Regions from separate parts of the Homo sapiens genome. Here region 2 is linked to region 1. Evidence: fine-mapped expression QTL. Tissue or cell type: B cells. Region 1 holds a variant in brackets; the other region holds the start of a gene. All regions are shown on one strand. Distances are from middle to middle. Region 1 overlaps TDO2 (tryptophan 2,3-dioxygenase). Region 2 holds the start of CTSO (cathepsin O).

What was found. PIP is the estimated chance that this variant, and not a neighbour inherited with it, causes the effect.
Region 2: it holds the start of CTSO, and the variant in region 1 is the best candidate, but not a certain one, in a credible set for the expression of CTSO in B cells (Fairfax 2012, PIP 0.52).

What each region holds. Positions count from the first base shown.
Region 1 is chr4:155,917,642-155,925,940 of GRCh38, forward strand. TDO2 (tryptophan 2,3-dioxygenase) reads left to right here. Exons shown (of 12, transcript NM_005651.4): 11 at 508-598; 12 at 2,196-2,765. The coding sequence ends at 2,349. It overlaps CTSO (cathepsin O), which reads right to left. Exons shown (of 8, transcript NM_001334.3): 8 at 6,477-8,299. Among named protein-coding and RNA genes, the nearest start is that of TDO2, 18 kb to the left of the region's middle. The variant C/T (reference allele first, on the strand shown) is at 3,639.
Region 2 is chr4:155,950,368-155,958,713 of GRCh38, forward strand. CTSO (cathepsin O) reads right to left here and starts at 3,499. Exons shown (of 8, transcript NM_001334.3): 1 at 3,346-3,499. The coding sequence starts at 3,480. RefSeq lists an enhancer at 4,610-4,904.

The DNA.
Region 1 (8,299 bases):
AACTTATTCATATACACACTAGGCACAGTACCTAAGGCCCACAATACTTTTGGGGGCTCATGAAAATGTTTTATTTTAAAATCTAAAGGAAAAATTAAACTTTAGGTCATAAAAGTTTTATTACATAAGAGTAATTTATTTGCCATTATGCCAATGCAGTTTTAAATTTTTAATTTTAATAGTTTTTTTATTTTTTTAAATGAAGGACCCCATAAAGGCAAAGGTGGCATGGACTCATGAGTCATATTATGATCCTGGTCTCTTCTATTGTATCCATGGGCTAAATGCAGCGAAGGATGGAGTGAAATGCATGTAGCCTGAAGCAAGTGGAGCGCTAGGCAACCTCACAGTCTCATCTGGCTCTCATGTATGAGCCTTCCATATGGCCAAGTGTTAGTTGTCAACATTTTCTCAGAAGCAATTATCATTACCAACCCCTCATTGTTAGAACATTGTGGAACTAATGGTGGAAAAATATCCATGGAGTAAATTTGTATGTTTGCCTAGATAACCATGTGTGCATGGTGCACAGAATGCTGGGCAGCAAAGCTGGCACCGGTGGTTCCTCAGGCTATCACTACCTGCGATCAACTGTGAGGTAGGTGGGGAAATTCTCCTTTCTTCCTGGTGGCAGTCACCAACAATTTGTTTCTCCACCTATACATTTGCTATCTAAAAAAAGCCATTTTATTTGCTCCTGTCTGAACTACTAACAACACGTTTGTAGTTAGAATATTCCAGTTCAGACTTTTGGTGGTAATTTTATAAAATCTTTAATTATGAACTTTCACTGTTTTGATCCTGTATGAAAAGGGATATGGTATCAATGGCTGCATGATATGTGAGGACACAAAGGGTTTAACAGTGCTTACATCCAGGCAGAAAAGTCTTCAACTCATTGTGACTCAAGTTTTGACCAGACTAAAACATTTATCATTAATTCTACTAATGTCTTCCTGGCTAGATAAATGACACAGTTAAAGTAGCGTCTTGTTTTCTGATATGGCTATTTTATATTATAAAACTATTTCCATCTACTCCAGAGAGTGCCCCTTTTAAAGTGTTTACAAGGAAAGAGATCAACATTTATTGAGGACTTAAAATATGCTAGAGAGGTTTCTAAGGGATGTACATTCTTATTTTGATATTCACAATATCATAGATAAATGGACAAATGGATACATCGGGAAACTGAAAAACTTCTGTGGTCCCTTGAAAAAGAAGAATCAATTCAAGAATAAATTAGACATTTGCATTTAGCCCCACCTCAAATCTTTACAGCACATTGCTTTCGTCCCTACTGTTATTACCAGATTGGTTGGTTTCTGAAATACACAGGTTTAAATTTTCATCATTTTTAGACATTTTCACTGTCCCTGGAAATGAATTCTGTAAGCACAAAACAGTTGATAACTGCCTATACCAAATGAGCACACACATCAGTGGGTGGTGGGAATAATGAACACAAATGGCATCTCTAGTGTGTTGTTATCTCAGTTTTAAAAAGACCTGACCAAAAGGAAGGACTAAAGTTTTCATTTTATAGAGTTAGAAACTGGGGCATTGAAGTTTAAACAACTTGTCAAAGGTCCTTGAATTGTAGGTGATAGAACCAGAATTTGAACCCAGATTTATTTAACTTCAAAGGCAAATGTTCTTCCTCCATAAAACTGCAACAGTTAAAATTGTTGACTAACCACACAAAAGCAATTTTAGTGTTAAAACTACTTCATGGACATTTATTATGAGTCTAAGATGGCATTTCAATTTATTAAACCCTTCAGGGCAGTTATTTGGCATCTTTTCAGTTGGAAATATTTCCAAATGAGCATCTAAGACTGTTTGCTTTAAATGTATTACCTTGCATAGCATCCTTCAGAAGTAGGAAATGAGAACACATCTTTATCTTTATGAAGGTGTCAGCAATAAGACTCTCGGTTTTAATAGGAAACACCCTGTTCTAAAACACATAATACTGTTTTATGGGCATAAACTTTGAAAATGGAATAAAAAGCAGACAATCAATACTAATACTACATAATACCTAATTTAATATATGATATATACAACATGCAATATATATTATAATATTGAATACTAACTATGGAAAATATCTGAGAAATAAATTTTCTAATTGAAAAATTTAAATATTTCATGTCAACCAATGTAACACATCTTCATGTATGTTTTTCCAGTGATAGGTACAAGGTATTTGTAGATTTATTTAATCTTTCAACATACCTGATTCCCCGACACTGGATACCGAAGATGAACCCAACCATTCACAAATTTCTATATACAGCAGAATACTGTGATAGCTCCTACTTCAGCAGTGATGAATCAGATTAAAATCGTCTGCAAAATCTATGAAGAATACTGGTTTCACAGCCTATTTTTTATTTTCTATGGATTTTCATAAATACAGTTTGAATATATGTATGCATATATTGTTCAGCACCACGATGCTCTGATTTAATTCTAGAAACAATTTGATTACCTCTTGTTTGTGACAAGACTAAGCATTAAGATGAGAAAGAATACATTTAAATAGTAACATTGTACATAGGGTGTTTTCCTATTAAAAATTCAGTTTCCCCTGAGACTTAATGTAACCACTTAATGTAATCACTATCTCATTGTTTCATCTTTATAAACTTGTAAACTTCATCTATTTCAAATATTTTATGCAGTACATTATATTATTCTGTACAAAGGCTTTCAAACAAAATTTTTAAAATAATAAAGTATTAATCTTTCTCCCTGTATTGTTTTTGAAATATTGATTGTATTTGTTAGGAATCTTAATGACCAAAGACAGAAATCTATCTGAAGTTTGTCTAGAGGGGATATACTGAAGAATTACTAGCTTGCAGAATTCAAATGAACACTGTCCAAAAAGCCTTGAAAGAGGAGCCTGAAAACTCTGATGCCACAAGGACTGGGTCCAGTTCCTGGAGTGCTATATTCCTGGAACACTCTTCTGAGATCTTTTTTGTCTCATCTCTTCTCTGTAGGTGTTGGCTTTATTCTTTCCTGCAGTAGAACAGCTTCTGTCTCAGGCTGGGTCCCAGTTTCCAGCACCATCAGACTCACACAGGGCAAAGCTTCTCTTTCCCCCAGCTCCCATGCCTGTGGTCTGGGAGGTGGAGTGAACTCTAATGCATGCAGAACTGAGGTAAAAGCAAGGAACAGTCCCCTCAAAGAAGATGTGCTTTCCAGAAGAAAGTACACAGACTGGACAGTGACCCAGTTCATTTCTAATAAGACATTAACTAAGCTAAGAGTTTAGATCAGACATGAGTTTTAGTCTTCTTTTTCTAGCTTGGCCAGGTTATTGGGAAAACTTAAATTTTTGTTATGGGAGGAAGTACATAATATTATTTAAGAAATCTAAAATGTATGTCAACCTTGACCTAGAGTGATTATCACTAGCAAGCAGTAAGTTCTTGATGGAATTGAACTATTCTTTGGTTTCATTTGCAAGTTTTTTCTTATAAGGTCTTATAAGGATTATATCATCTAGTTTGTCTCAGAATTACATATAATTGTTTTTGTCTCCATGACTGTTGTGTGCTCATGTATGTGTGTATACACAGTATCTGATGGTGGCTAGGCTGATATAATACAGAGGCAAATGG[C/T]ATGGTGGCTAAAAGGCACTAGCTTTGAAATCAACAAGCTCGAGGGCAAATTCTGGCTCTGCCATTTATTAACTATCTGGTACTATCACCAGTTGAAGCCTAGTTTCCTATCCATCTGGGGATAAAAGTACTTATTTTATAAGCTTTGCTATTTCCCAGGAGAAACATGTGTTAATAGATATTCTGTCACCAAAGTGCCTTAGAATATTGGTGTAAATGTTATTTGTCAACGTTTATCATTATTTTAATAGACTGTATTAGTCAGGATTCTCCAAAGGGACAAAACTAACAGGATCGATGTATATATGAAGGGGAGTTTATTAAAGAGTATTGACTTACAAAATTACAAGGTGAAGTCCCACAATAGGTCTGCAAGCCAGGAAGCCAGTCCAAGTCCCAACACCTCAAAAGGAGGGAAGCCAATATTGTAGCCTTCAGTCTGTGGCCGAAGGCCCCAGAGCCCATGGCAAATCACTGATATAAGTCCAAGAGTCCAAAAGTTGAAGAACTTGGAGTCTGTTATTCCAGGGCAGGAAGCCTCCAGCATGGGAGAAAGATGGAGGCCAGAAGACTCAGCAGGTCTGTTCTCTCCATGCCTCCTTTCACACTGGCAGCTGATTAGACAGGGCCCACCCAGGCTGAGGGTGGGTCTGCCTCTCCCAGTCCACTGACTCAAATGTTAATCTCCTTTGGAAACACCCTCACAAACACATCCAGGAACAATACTTTGCATCCTTCAATCCAATCAAGTTGGCACTCAATATTAACCATCACAACTTTGTCAACTTGAACCCATCCACATCTCCTGAAATCACACATAATCTTCAACTGAAGCCAATAATAAGGTCATAATTACATCTAACACAATACAGCTATCCTTTGTACAACTGGAAGTGCACCAATCCCCAATCCAAATGCTATTACCTAAAGTTAACAACACTTAAATGCTGATATGAAGTCAACAAATCTTACATCACATGATAAAGGAAAAATAAAGGAAATAAAATGAATATATTTTCTTAGTACAAGTATATATATGTGCAAACATGTTCTCAACAAAATAAAGAGGAAATACTCATGACAATTACAGTCCTCATTTCTGCAACTGGTCACATGGCTGAAGCTGCTATTGATGACTACCTTATTCCACTACCCCCATTCCTTATTCTCTTTGCCTTCAGCAAGCACCTCAGCAGGTTGTGGCTTTGTACCTGCTGGAGTGACCCAAACCTTCATTCCTGAAGTATCTGGGCCATTTGTAGTCCTGCCAGGATTGTGCCGTTGTAGTTTCCCATTGACATTAATCACAGGGCATGGCAATACTAAGAGACACCCTAAGGGTTCTCCTGTGTTCCATGCCTACTCTTCCTTACCTCCATTGTGGAGTAGTAGACTGATTTCGTCTTCATAGTCCAGGTCAATCACCCTGGCCAATACTGTAACTCCCTTCTTAGCCTGTTGCATTAGTCTGCTGTTATGCTGCTAATAAAGACATACCTGAGACTGGGTAAGTCATAAAGGAAAGAGGTTTAATGGACTCACAGTTCCACATGGTTGTGGAGGCTTCACAATCATGGTGGAAAGCAAAGGAGAAGCAAAGTCATGTCTTACATGGTGGCAGGCAAGAGTGCTTGTGCAGGGGAACTCCCATTTATAAAACCATCAGATCTTGTGAGACTTATTCACTACCATGAGAACAGTATGGGAGAAACCACCCTCATGATTCAATTATCTCCACCTGGCCCTGCCCTTGACATGTGGGGATTATTACAATTCAAGGTGAGATTTGGGTTAAGAGACAGCTAAACCATATCATAGCTAAACCATATCATAGACTATATGGTTATATTTAGTTCTTTACACCTATATTTCTTGGTGTGACTAAGCTAGAAGTTGCAAGAGTTTTATCAAAGGATATATCAGTCATTCTTCATGTAAATATCAAAATAATTTAGACTGCAAGTCCCCACCCTCCCCAGTCACACTTGCTTCTAGTGCTGATGACCCACTTTATAACTTTTAAATGGGCTAGAAAATCACTGTAAGGTGGGCTAATTTAGTATTCACTTTGAGATCTTTGTGAAACCACATCCAGAAACACGTTGATGACTTTCATTATGACTTCTAATTATTAGGTGAGGATTTTGTTGCTTTGACTTCAAGTAGTTTGTTATGGCTGGATCACAGCATAAGAGTGATCAAACTATGCAGCACAGCAGCAATCACGGTTGAAAAGGTAGAGAGGGGCTTCTTCGTGAAAACTCACTTAAAAGAGCTCACATGGTATCATAAGGCATTGGGAGCCCTTGAACGGTTGTGAACAGAGAAACTGATAACGTCTTTGAGAAATGTAAATGCAGGGGAAATACAGTAGATGGACTATAAGAACATCAATCTGAATCACCAGACTTTGGGTCTGGACTAAGGGACATAGAGAATAATGAGTAGGCTACTGAATAATGGAGATAAATGACACTAAAGAACATGCAACTAAGAAATGACAGTAGCCACAGGAGGTAGGTAATTCATTGATGGGTTACCAAGGTGCAGATGACCTGCTTAAATGTTTAGGATTTGTCTTAATTTTATTGATTGGGTGATTCCATAATGTTGATTCTGTTAACCAAAATAGAGGCTCTTAGAGGTAAAGGAAATTTTTGTTGGGGGTGGTGGGAGAAGTTAGGGAGGATGACGAATGGAGTTTCGGAAACACTGAGGTTAAAGTGCCTATGGAGAAAACCAAAAGCTGGATATATTAATTTAGAGCTGAGAAAACTGTAAATATAAAGCACATTAATACCGTGTTGACAAAATGTAAGCCATACACTTAAGAAGAGGTTCTTTTTAAACCAAAGTCAAATGTAGGTTGTTTTATTGTAAATGTCATCAAAATCCAGAACAGCAGAAACATATTAATCAGTTTGAAATTTTAGAAATCCTTTAGCACTTGAAAAAGAGTATTACAAATGCATCTATATCACATAGAAAGTCAGCGAATACAAACTAGACAAGCAGGACATAGTTCTTTTCTGGCATTCCAGGATAATAAGAATATTTATCAATTAAAAGGTCAATATCTGTCTTCCTGAAATAACTCCAAACCTGAGTCAACACACATTCTTTTCGGATTGGTTCTGACTGGCGTAAGAAGAGAAATACAGCATTTTGTTTTTTATTTTGTTTATCTAATCACAGGGAAGGATAAACAAAGGGCAAAAGTGAGAGAAAAAGTTAGATGTCCTTGAATTTTTTTTTTTAGTGGTTGCTACTGCATTTCATGTTTCATTTTTGTTAGATCATATACATTAGAAAAGAATGATACATTTTAGAGAAGAAATATGTACATACATAGTATCAGAAATAATTTTCTTGTATTGATTCATTTAATATGGTTGTGCTTATATTCAATCAGAAGGTCAACTCCTTTGCTCTAAGGTTCTTACACTGCTAACAAGAAATGGCTTTTTTCCTGTTGCAGGTCATGAGCAGCACACAGTGTCCTTTCTAGGCACATAGGATCATCGATCACTGTGTGGACGCAGGCTAATCAGAATTGCACCTGAAATCACTTGTGCAATTAGTGATGCAAGAGTGATCACAGGAATCAAGACTGGGAGCCAAGAGAAAGAACAAGAGGTGCACAAAGAAGCAGTTCGGATGGGAGACCAGGAAAGCTGAGGGGAAAACTGGGAAACAGATTCTGGAAAACTCACAGTTTGTTTGATACCCAGGGTTAAGAGATGGGACTTTGATAGGAGTGGTGCTTATGAATTAAGGGAGGAAGAAAGAGGTGAGATCCTAATGTTGGTAAAGGTACAGAGACAAAGGGAGCCAACCAAGTGGTAAGAAAATAGAAATGGAAAGTAAAAATGAGACTTAATTCTTTAGTCAGGGAAGCCAAGCCACCAGGAAAACTTGGTAAAGAGTAAGAGAAAGAGGGAGAAAATATGAGATAATATTTTGGTATTTTGATATACTAGAGAACAAAATATTATTCTATAGTATAAAAAGAACAAAGTAAGCAATATGATCTATTGGATTCCTATTCACAATGAAAATTATCAAACAATAATTTGTCTCTCAGGCAATGCTACTAGAAGTTACTTATATAGTTGCCTTATTGTTCATTTAATTTCAGTTTAACTGAAGCGATTTTGCCCTTTTCCTTCCTTCTACGTGGTCACTCTGCTGTTCAAAGGGTAAGCACCATTTGTTCAGGTAAAGCAATTGGTGTTTGAAATCCTTCCGATAGATACGCCATCTCAGAGGGCTGCTAATATAACTAACTGTACAAGACACACATAATTTTAGGTTGGCCATTCTTGTGTATAGGGGTAATCTAAAGCTAGTAGTTACACCCCACAAAAGAAAATAAATTCTTATGACCTCTTTGATCCCACCTGAAATATCTCACAATAAACAAACAAATAAATAATAAGCAAACAAAAACAAACAGTAGCCTTCCCCAGTTGCAGGGGCCTAAAATATCTCCTAATCTGAATTTCGTCTCAGGACAGGAAACTATTCCATAGGCTTCCTCGCAGGCTTCTGTGCTGGAGTTTGTCCCACTGACTTTGGTTGTCCATCTCTCTACAAGAAGGGAACATTCTGAAACTTAGTTTAAATACTACTAGGCCTTAGAATCTTTTGTAGGTAGTTGC
Region 2 (8,346 bases), 33 kb after region 1:
GACCAGTTCTTTAGACACAGTGGAAATTAAATAAAGTATTGGATAAATGTATGGGAAGATGAATAAATTATAACCTATGATTTTAAGTTTATGATATATTTCCATTTAGTCAATGTATGCTTTAAGTGAGATTCATCAGAAAAAGTCTGCTGAACAACCTTATCTAACATCAAATTCGTGTTTTCATCTTTATATAAGGTAGAACAGGAGTCTCAAAACCCTGGGCCATGGACCAGTACTGTTCTGTGGCCTGTTAACGACCAGGCTGCACAGCAGGTGGTGAGGGGCCTGCGAGCATGCATCACCACCTGATCTCCACCTTCTGTCAGATCGGCAGCAGCATTAGATTATCATAGGAGCACAAACCCTACTGGGAACGGTGCATGTAAGGGATCTAGTTTGCACAGTCCTTATGTGAATCTAATGCTTGATGATCTGGGGTGGAACAGCTTCATTCTGAAATCATCCGCATCCTCCTCACCCCACCCCCACACCCCAGTCCGTGGAAAAATTGTCTTCCATGAAACCAATCCCTGGTGCCAAAAAGTTTGGGGACCACTGAGGTAGAAAATAGGTTTTAAAGCTTTCTTGGATAAAGCCTATTTGGAGGACCTAATTCCAGATTTCAAGGGGCTGATTACGGCAAGCACATATAAGTGGCTCATTAGTTAGGATCACTTGTTATAAAGATGCTATGGCCATCTATTTACACATAAATAAATATTCCTAAATATATAAATAATCTTATAATAATATAACCTGTGTCATTACGGCAACTGGTCTTAAGGTAAAGCTTTGGAAATTTTATGTAAAATCACATGTACTTTGGCATAGATATTATTCTAAAGTGAGTGTATCAAGCAAATTTTATTGGATCCAATATTGGGTCTGTGCCTCCCAAAAGGATAAGAATACCAAATGTTCTGTGGTAAAATAATGAGCATCAGTAAATATGAGGGCATAGCTAGGTTTTGGCACAAAGGAGAGTAGGCTAAATCCAATAGTTAAGAGCTTCCTGAGCACTGGAAGTTTCTAAAGGAGTGAAAGTGCAGAGATAAGGGGTGCCATCCAAAGTCAGGTGTCTTGTGAGGCATCCCATAATAAACCATAGTGGAGTCTAGTTTTCACTGAACAATACTATAATATTTTGTGGGAAAGTCATGGGCTAACCTAACTTTCATTTAACGTGCATTCCTGGGAAACTTACAAAACTATCTAAGGCTAAGATTAAAACAAATTTTAAAACCTTCACCATTCTCTAAACCCATGACCATGAAAGACATTACTAATTAATCAAGGACTTTCTTGAACCAGATCTTCAGCTGCAAACCCCTGAATCATCAATTCACCAATGAATTAACTTGATTTCAACAAGAAGTTTCACGGTTACCAAGGAGGCAAGGCCCTTTCCACCTTTCCCACTGTCCAGCTCTCTATCCCAAGTCCGAACAGCAATCTCCAGCTAACTAATCTAACTAATTCCTGATGATCTTAGATGAAAGACTTTCATCCCAAATCCATCCATCTCCCCCACTTCCCTCCTCCCGTCCATGGAAAAAATGTCTTCCATGAATCCGGTCCCTAGTGCCAAAAGATTGGGGACCACTAAGGTAGAAAATCGGTTTTAAAGCATTCTTGGATAAAGTCCAACTAAGCACCGAGAGGTGTTCAGTTTCCAGCAACTGTGCGTTGAAGCCTCAATGTTCTCTTTTTTGGGTATCCATCTCATGAAGCAAATTCTTACAGGCAGCAATTGCTTTGAAAATTTTTTCAGTATTTCTTAACCCGAGGTTTTTAAAATGTACTAAGAGTCTTCATAATTCGATCCTCCTCCACTTCCAACTTTCCATCTTTCAACCTGTTTCTTTGTATTTCTCCTGAGAAAAGTTACATTTTCTAGACATTCATCAGGGTATGGCCTCTTTACAGGACCAGTATGAGTCACTACATAAATTATACACATATATATTTATAAATTATCTAAAATCTAAATAAATGTTAAAAATATATTTATAAGTCTAGCCCTTTGAGCTTTGTCCTGAAATATTATTTTTAGGAGCCTGACAGTGTGTTTATTTATTTAGCCAATGAATACGTTACCAATAAAGGTGAAACTGACTTTTCCCCTAAGGGGTTTCGTTTACCAGGAAAACGAACGTAAGTTGAGGATAGGGGTAGAATACAGGCCAGAATTTTGTTCTTGAAAGAGTAAGAGGACTTCTGGTTTTGAAAGCTAGAACTGAACTCAAGAATAATAAAGTGGAGATAACAGTACACATCTCGGTTTGGACAAAACGTAAGAGTGGACAGAATCAGGGAAGGCTGGCCTTCCTAAACATTGGAGCTTTCCAGGAGAGTCGGGGGAAAAGAGCACAGCTATGAAATCCTGTGAGAAATTCCAACAAACACCAGGAAAAAAGATACACTTCCTTGAGCAATATTACTCAACTCAGACTTATGTTTGATTCAGAATGAAAGAATTTTCTTTTCCAATAAATTAAATCATGATAATGGCATCTTTCATGAATTTAAAAATGTGTTAAATAGTATCAGCTATCTAGAACATAGTGAGGCGAACACTAAATCGGCATCCCTTGCAGTTTCCTTGGTTTCAGGAAAATCATTATTTGTGCTCAGCTAACTGGTCCCTTCCAGAGTTTTCATGCTAGACTCAAATCTAAGTATTTATTATAAATATTATAAAATATAAATTATATTATATTTCGTATAATAATATGAAAAGGAAATTAAATGCTTCTCTTTTCTTCAACTCAGTCTCCGCCAAGGCAGGAAGAACTTTTAAAGTGGTGCGTTAGTTTAAGGAGAATCATAAACCATCAGGATTCTTTAATCTGGCTAAAGACAGGCTCTTTGTTTCTAACTTCTGATCACTAGCGCCCTCCTCGGGAAAAAAAAACACGACAGGTTTCTTCCACCAACAGGCTGCTCCCTGTTTCTGGTTCTCATAAAAGAGAAATAGAAGAGCTTTGGAAGCCAGTGGCAACGATAGAGGGGATTGCTAAAAGGGGGTGCTTCTTCCCACCAAGGACACTTTGGACGTATCTATGGATTTATTTGGGTGCGTCCCAAAAATCCATAGCGACAAATCTCTTCTGGAAAATCAAGTCTTTTGGTTAGCAAAGGCATGGGGGAGTGACACCATGGCACAAGGAGAGGGGAGAGAGAAGCTGGCTTTTGCACCCGCAGCTCAGGGCCCCAGACGCATCGCAGAGCCACGGGTGCCCACGAGCAGGGTCAGCTCTCGGGGGCCCTCTTCCGCAGCCCAGACCCGGGACAGGAAGTGAGGGAGCAGGGACAGATCCCGGGGAGGCGCGCGCTCGGTACCCGGAAGGCGGCGGCTTCACGCTCGCGGCTCCGCGGCCAGGTCGGGGTGAAGGGGGCGCGGGAGTCCGCATCGCCGCCGCCCCGGCACAGCAGCCACAGCAGCCACGGCAGCCACGGCAGCGCCCGCACGTCCATTGCGGCGCCCGGCTCCTCTGCCGCCCGCGCGGCCTGTTTTCTCTTTCGGTTCCTCGGCTCCTCCCAGCCTGGGCTCGAGGGGCGGAAGGAGCTGGGTTGAGTGCACGATGCTGAGATTGACCCTTTTTTAGGTCCCCGGTGTTCTGTGACTGAAAATCCGGTCAGCTGGAGGCTACGGACCTCCTTGCTGAGGCTAGTTTTTTTGTTTTTGTTTTTGTTTTGGAAGAGTCAGGCACTTGACCATGTGCTTTCGAGGTTTCACTTCCATCCATTAGAAAAAAAGAAGCCTGAGAGTCATTCTTTTGTGTGTGTTGAGATCAGGTCTCACTGCAGCCTCGACCTTCAGGTTCAAGTGCCTCCTGCCTCAGCCTCCGGAGTACCTGGGACTACAGGCGCGTGCCACCACCCCAGGCTATTTTTGTATTTTTAGTAGAGATAGGATCTTGCCATATTGCCCAGGCCGGTCTCGAACTCCTGGACTCTAGTGATCCACCCGCCTTGGCCTCCCAAAATGCTCACAGGTGTGAGCCACCTGGCCTGCCCTGTGAGCCACCGGAAGCTGCCTTTTTCCTTCTTGCCACAATCCCTAAGTTCAAGACCTAGTTCTGAAGTGATGTGGGCCAATACATAGAGTCATCCATTCAGCAGATGTTTATAAATACGTAACAAAATTGTACAGATGTGAAAAGCATACACAGTTTTTGGATCTATTATGGCAGTTTCAAAACTCTTGAAGCCTGTTTCTCCGTTTGCAAAGGAAGATAGAGCCAAGTACATAATTTGCAGGGTTCCGTGTAAACTGAAAATGAAGTTCCCTTGTTCATAAATTGTGAAGAATTTCAAGACGGCAACAGCAGAGCATTAACCCAAGCCATGGGCCTTCTAAGCACCCACTTCTGCACAGGTCACACACTCATGAACCTGGCTCTACCGAGCCTTTCTATTATCATCTATTCTGAACAAGGCTTCCATGTCTGTGAAATTCATATCATTACCCTTGTAGATTTTTAGAACTAACATCAGATTTATGTCTTTAGTTTTTACCTAGGTGCAGTGAGTTACAATATTCTCCAATGCAAACTTCGTAATAAAAATAAAAATAATGTTCCGAGTATTAAGAGGAAAGACACAAGAGTTTTTTATGTACGTTCATGATAAGATATATTGCTCTTGGCAAGTGTGGTGATAAAGATTTTATTTAAATCATAAGTTCACAGAACGATGTTCATGTTTACCTCAGCAGTTCTTTTGTACTTAGCCCTTTTTTGTGACTCATACAAGCACATACTTTTCTTTTTAAACTGAACTTTGCTTTCAGATCATAGTCCCTGTTTATTGACAACCTACGGAGTCAGGAAATTTAAATATAGGCAGTCATCTTTACTTTAGGATAATTGGTATTGTAAAAAAGCCCCTTGAACTAAACTCATTTCAGGAGCTCACATCAAGTATTTATTGAGTACCTGCTAAGTGTCAGGCATTCTTCTAGGTAATGAGGATATATCAAGTAAGTGGATAAGTGACTAAAGGGATGAAAATCCCCATCCCTATGGGACTGATATTTCAATTGATTTACATCAACAAATATTTTATTGAGTACTTCCTAAGTGTCAGGCATTGTTCTAGGTCATCAGGACACATCATGGATGGAAGTGCATAAGTGACTGAAGAGATGAAAAGCCCCACCCTGTTGAAGCTGGTATTTCAGTGAGGGGGAGAGACGCAATAAAATTACTACAGGTTGAGGATCCCTTATCCACAATGCCTGGGTCTGGAAGTGTTTCAGATTTCAGATTTTTTCCCCCCAGATTTTGGAATATTTGCATATACATAATGAGATCTCTTGGGGATGAGACCCAAGTCTAAACACAAAATTCATTTGTGTTTCACTTATGCTACTGACTGAAGGTAATCTTACTGACTATTTTAGGTAATTTTATGCATAAAACAAGGCTTTGAATGCATTTTGACTATGACCCACCACATGAAGTCAGGTGTGAAATTTTCTAGGTGTGGCATGATGTCAGTACTCAATAAGTTTTAGATTTTGGAGTATTTTGGGTGTTTGGATTAGAGATGCTCAACTTGTACATGTGTTAAAGGACAATAAATCCAGATAAGGAGCATCATCAGTGTGAGGGGTGGTACTGCTATTTTAAATAAGCTGTTCAATACTGTCCTCACTGATGAGGAGAGTTTTGAGCAAAGATTTGAAGGAGAAGAAAGTGAGCCACATGGATATTCAGATATCCAGGGAAAGAGAAGCTAAGACAGAAAGAACTGTCAACACAAAGGCCTTGAGATGGAAGTTTGCTTGGCACGTTCCAGAAACATAAAAGACGTCAGCATGGATGGAGTAAAGGAAAAAAAAAAGGATGGGGGAGAGTAGAATATGAGATAAGTAAGAAGCGCACAGATTGTGAAGAATTTTGGGTCAGTTAAAAGGGAGATCAGAATCATCTATTAAGTAGTAAAACAAAGTTTTTGAAAAGTGGCTTGAAAAGTGAAGGTGGCAAGTATCTGCTAATTCTTAGAATAAACACTACAAATTACATGTATATGTAGAGATGTGTTTTTTTCATCAAATTTGCAAAATAGCACATGGAACTTCCCTCAACTCTGTATTAGATATCTATTGCCATGTAAAATATAACCCTCAAACTTAGCATCTTAAAAATACGAATTTTTCTTATCTTAAACAGTTTCTGTGGACCAGGAGGGAGCAGCTTATCTGGGTGGTTCCAGCTCAGAGTGTCTCATGAGGACGCAGACAAGCTGTTGCATATGGCTGCAATCTTCTGAAGGTTTCCCAAGTTTAAAGGATTCAATTTCAAGCTCATGTGGCTGTTAGCAAGAGTCCTCAGCTCCTCTTAGGCCTTTGGACAAAATCCTCAGAACCTTATCAGAAGGCTGGGCTTTTCCTGCCAGCTCTTTGTTCCTGCAGAATGAGTGAATAGAGAAATTGAGACAGTGGACCAGGGAATGACTGAGGTGGGAGCAGCAGTGTCTTTTTATAACCTTATCTTGAAACATATCATCTCTTCTGCCATTGGTTACACAGAGCCAGTCTGGTAAGATGTGGGAGGTGGAGCTGACATAAGGTGGGGTCATCAGGTGCCATCTTGGAGGCCCGCTACCACAGCCTCATGTTGAATGTTATAAGCCCAGTAACAAATGCAGTCATTTCTTTATGTGTGAAAATACTCCAGAGCTAACCATTTTCACAAATACCTCTTAACCTTTATGATACACAAATCAATATTTACTGTTGTTTTTATCCCGTTATGCACCTTCTGGGTTTTCTTCCATTTTTAATCATGCTACTTCATGTTTCAGTGACTTTGCTACGGAATTATTTTGTTTCTTTGTTTTTTTTTTTTTTACCTTTTTTTTGTTTGTTTGTTTGTTTGTTTTGTTTTGTTTTGAGATGGAGTATCTCTCTTGCTCAGGCTGGAGTGCAGTGGTATGATCTCGGCTCACTGCAACCTCTGCCTCCCGGGTTCAAGTGATTCTTCTGCCTCAGCCTCTCAAGTAGCTGGGACTACAGGTGCACACCACCATGCCCAGCTAATTTTTGTATTTTTAGTAGAGATGAGGTTTCATCATGTTGGCCAGGATGGTCTCAATCTCTTGACCTCGTGATCCACCCGCCTCAGCCTCCCAAAGTGCTGGGGTTACAGGTGTGAGCCACTGTGCCCAGCTGGAGATTTCTTAAAAAGCTGAAAGTAAACTACCATTTGATCCAGCAGTCTCACTACTGAGTACCTACCCAAAGGAAAATAAGTCATAATATGAAAAACACACATGCACACACATGTTTATAGCAGCACAATTTGCAATTGCAAAGATATGGAACCAACCTAAATGCCCATCAACCAATGAGTGGATAAAGAAAATGTGGTATATATACACTGTGGAATACTAGTCAGCCATAAAAAGGAACGAAATAATGTCTTTTGTAGCAACTTGGATGGACTGGAGGCCATTATTCTAAGTGAGGTAACTCAGGATTGGAAAACCAAATATTGTATGTTCTCACTTATAAGTGGGAGCTAAGCTATGAGGATGCAAAGCGGAAGAATGATACAGTGGACTTTGGGGACTCGGCGGGAAGGGTGGGAGGGGGGTGAGGGATAAAATACTACACATTGGGTACAGTGTACATTGTTTAGGTGACAGGTGCACCAAAATCTTAGAACTTATCCATGTAACCTGTACTCCAAACACCATTGAAATTAAAATTAAAATTTTAAAAAGTTGAAGCAACAAATAATGTAACAAAATGCCTATTCAAAATGACAAAGTAAACAATAATGGCTTCTTTCTTCTATCAAGTACATTTGAGGTGATGACGGTCCTGAACCATCTCAGGGAACTAAATATTTAATAGATCACTCTCTTAACCCAATAGTTATTGGAAATTTCCAAAGGAAACTTATCAGTATAGATAATTGATAGAAAAACACACAAACAATTCCACAGAGGACAGGGAAGACTGCATCGTTAAGAGAGTAGAATTACATGCCTCACAGGCTATCGGGGTGAGGTACCTGACAGAGAATGTGTGTCTAGCCTTGCACAAGCCAAGCAAAGTGTGGATCTGCAGGGAGAAGTGGCTGGCCCTCAATGAGCTGAGTGCTGGGCATTAGTCAACTGCTGATTCAGCCACAGATGCTAATCAGAACATCCAGAGAAGAAACCGGGCTGTATACTCCCCAAGAAATATCAGATGTAGAGCCAGGATTGGCATGGACCTCAAGGACACAGGACAGACCTGAGGGTCTATTCCCTGTGCCCCCTCACAATTCCATACATGTCCTTGCACTCACACATCAAACACTGTCTAGAGAGGAACATGGTGGAGAG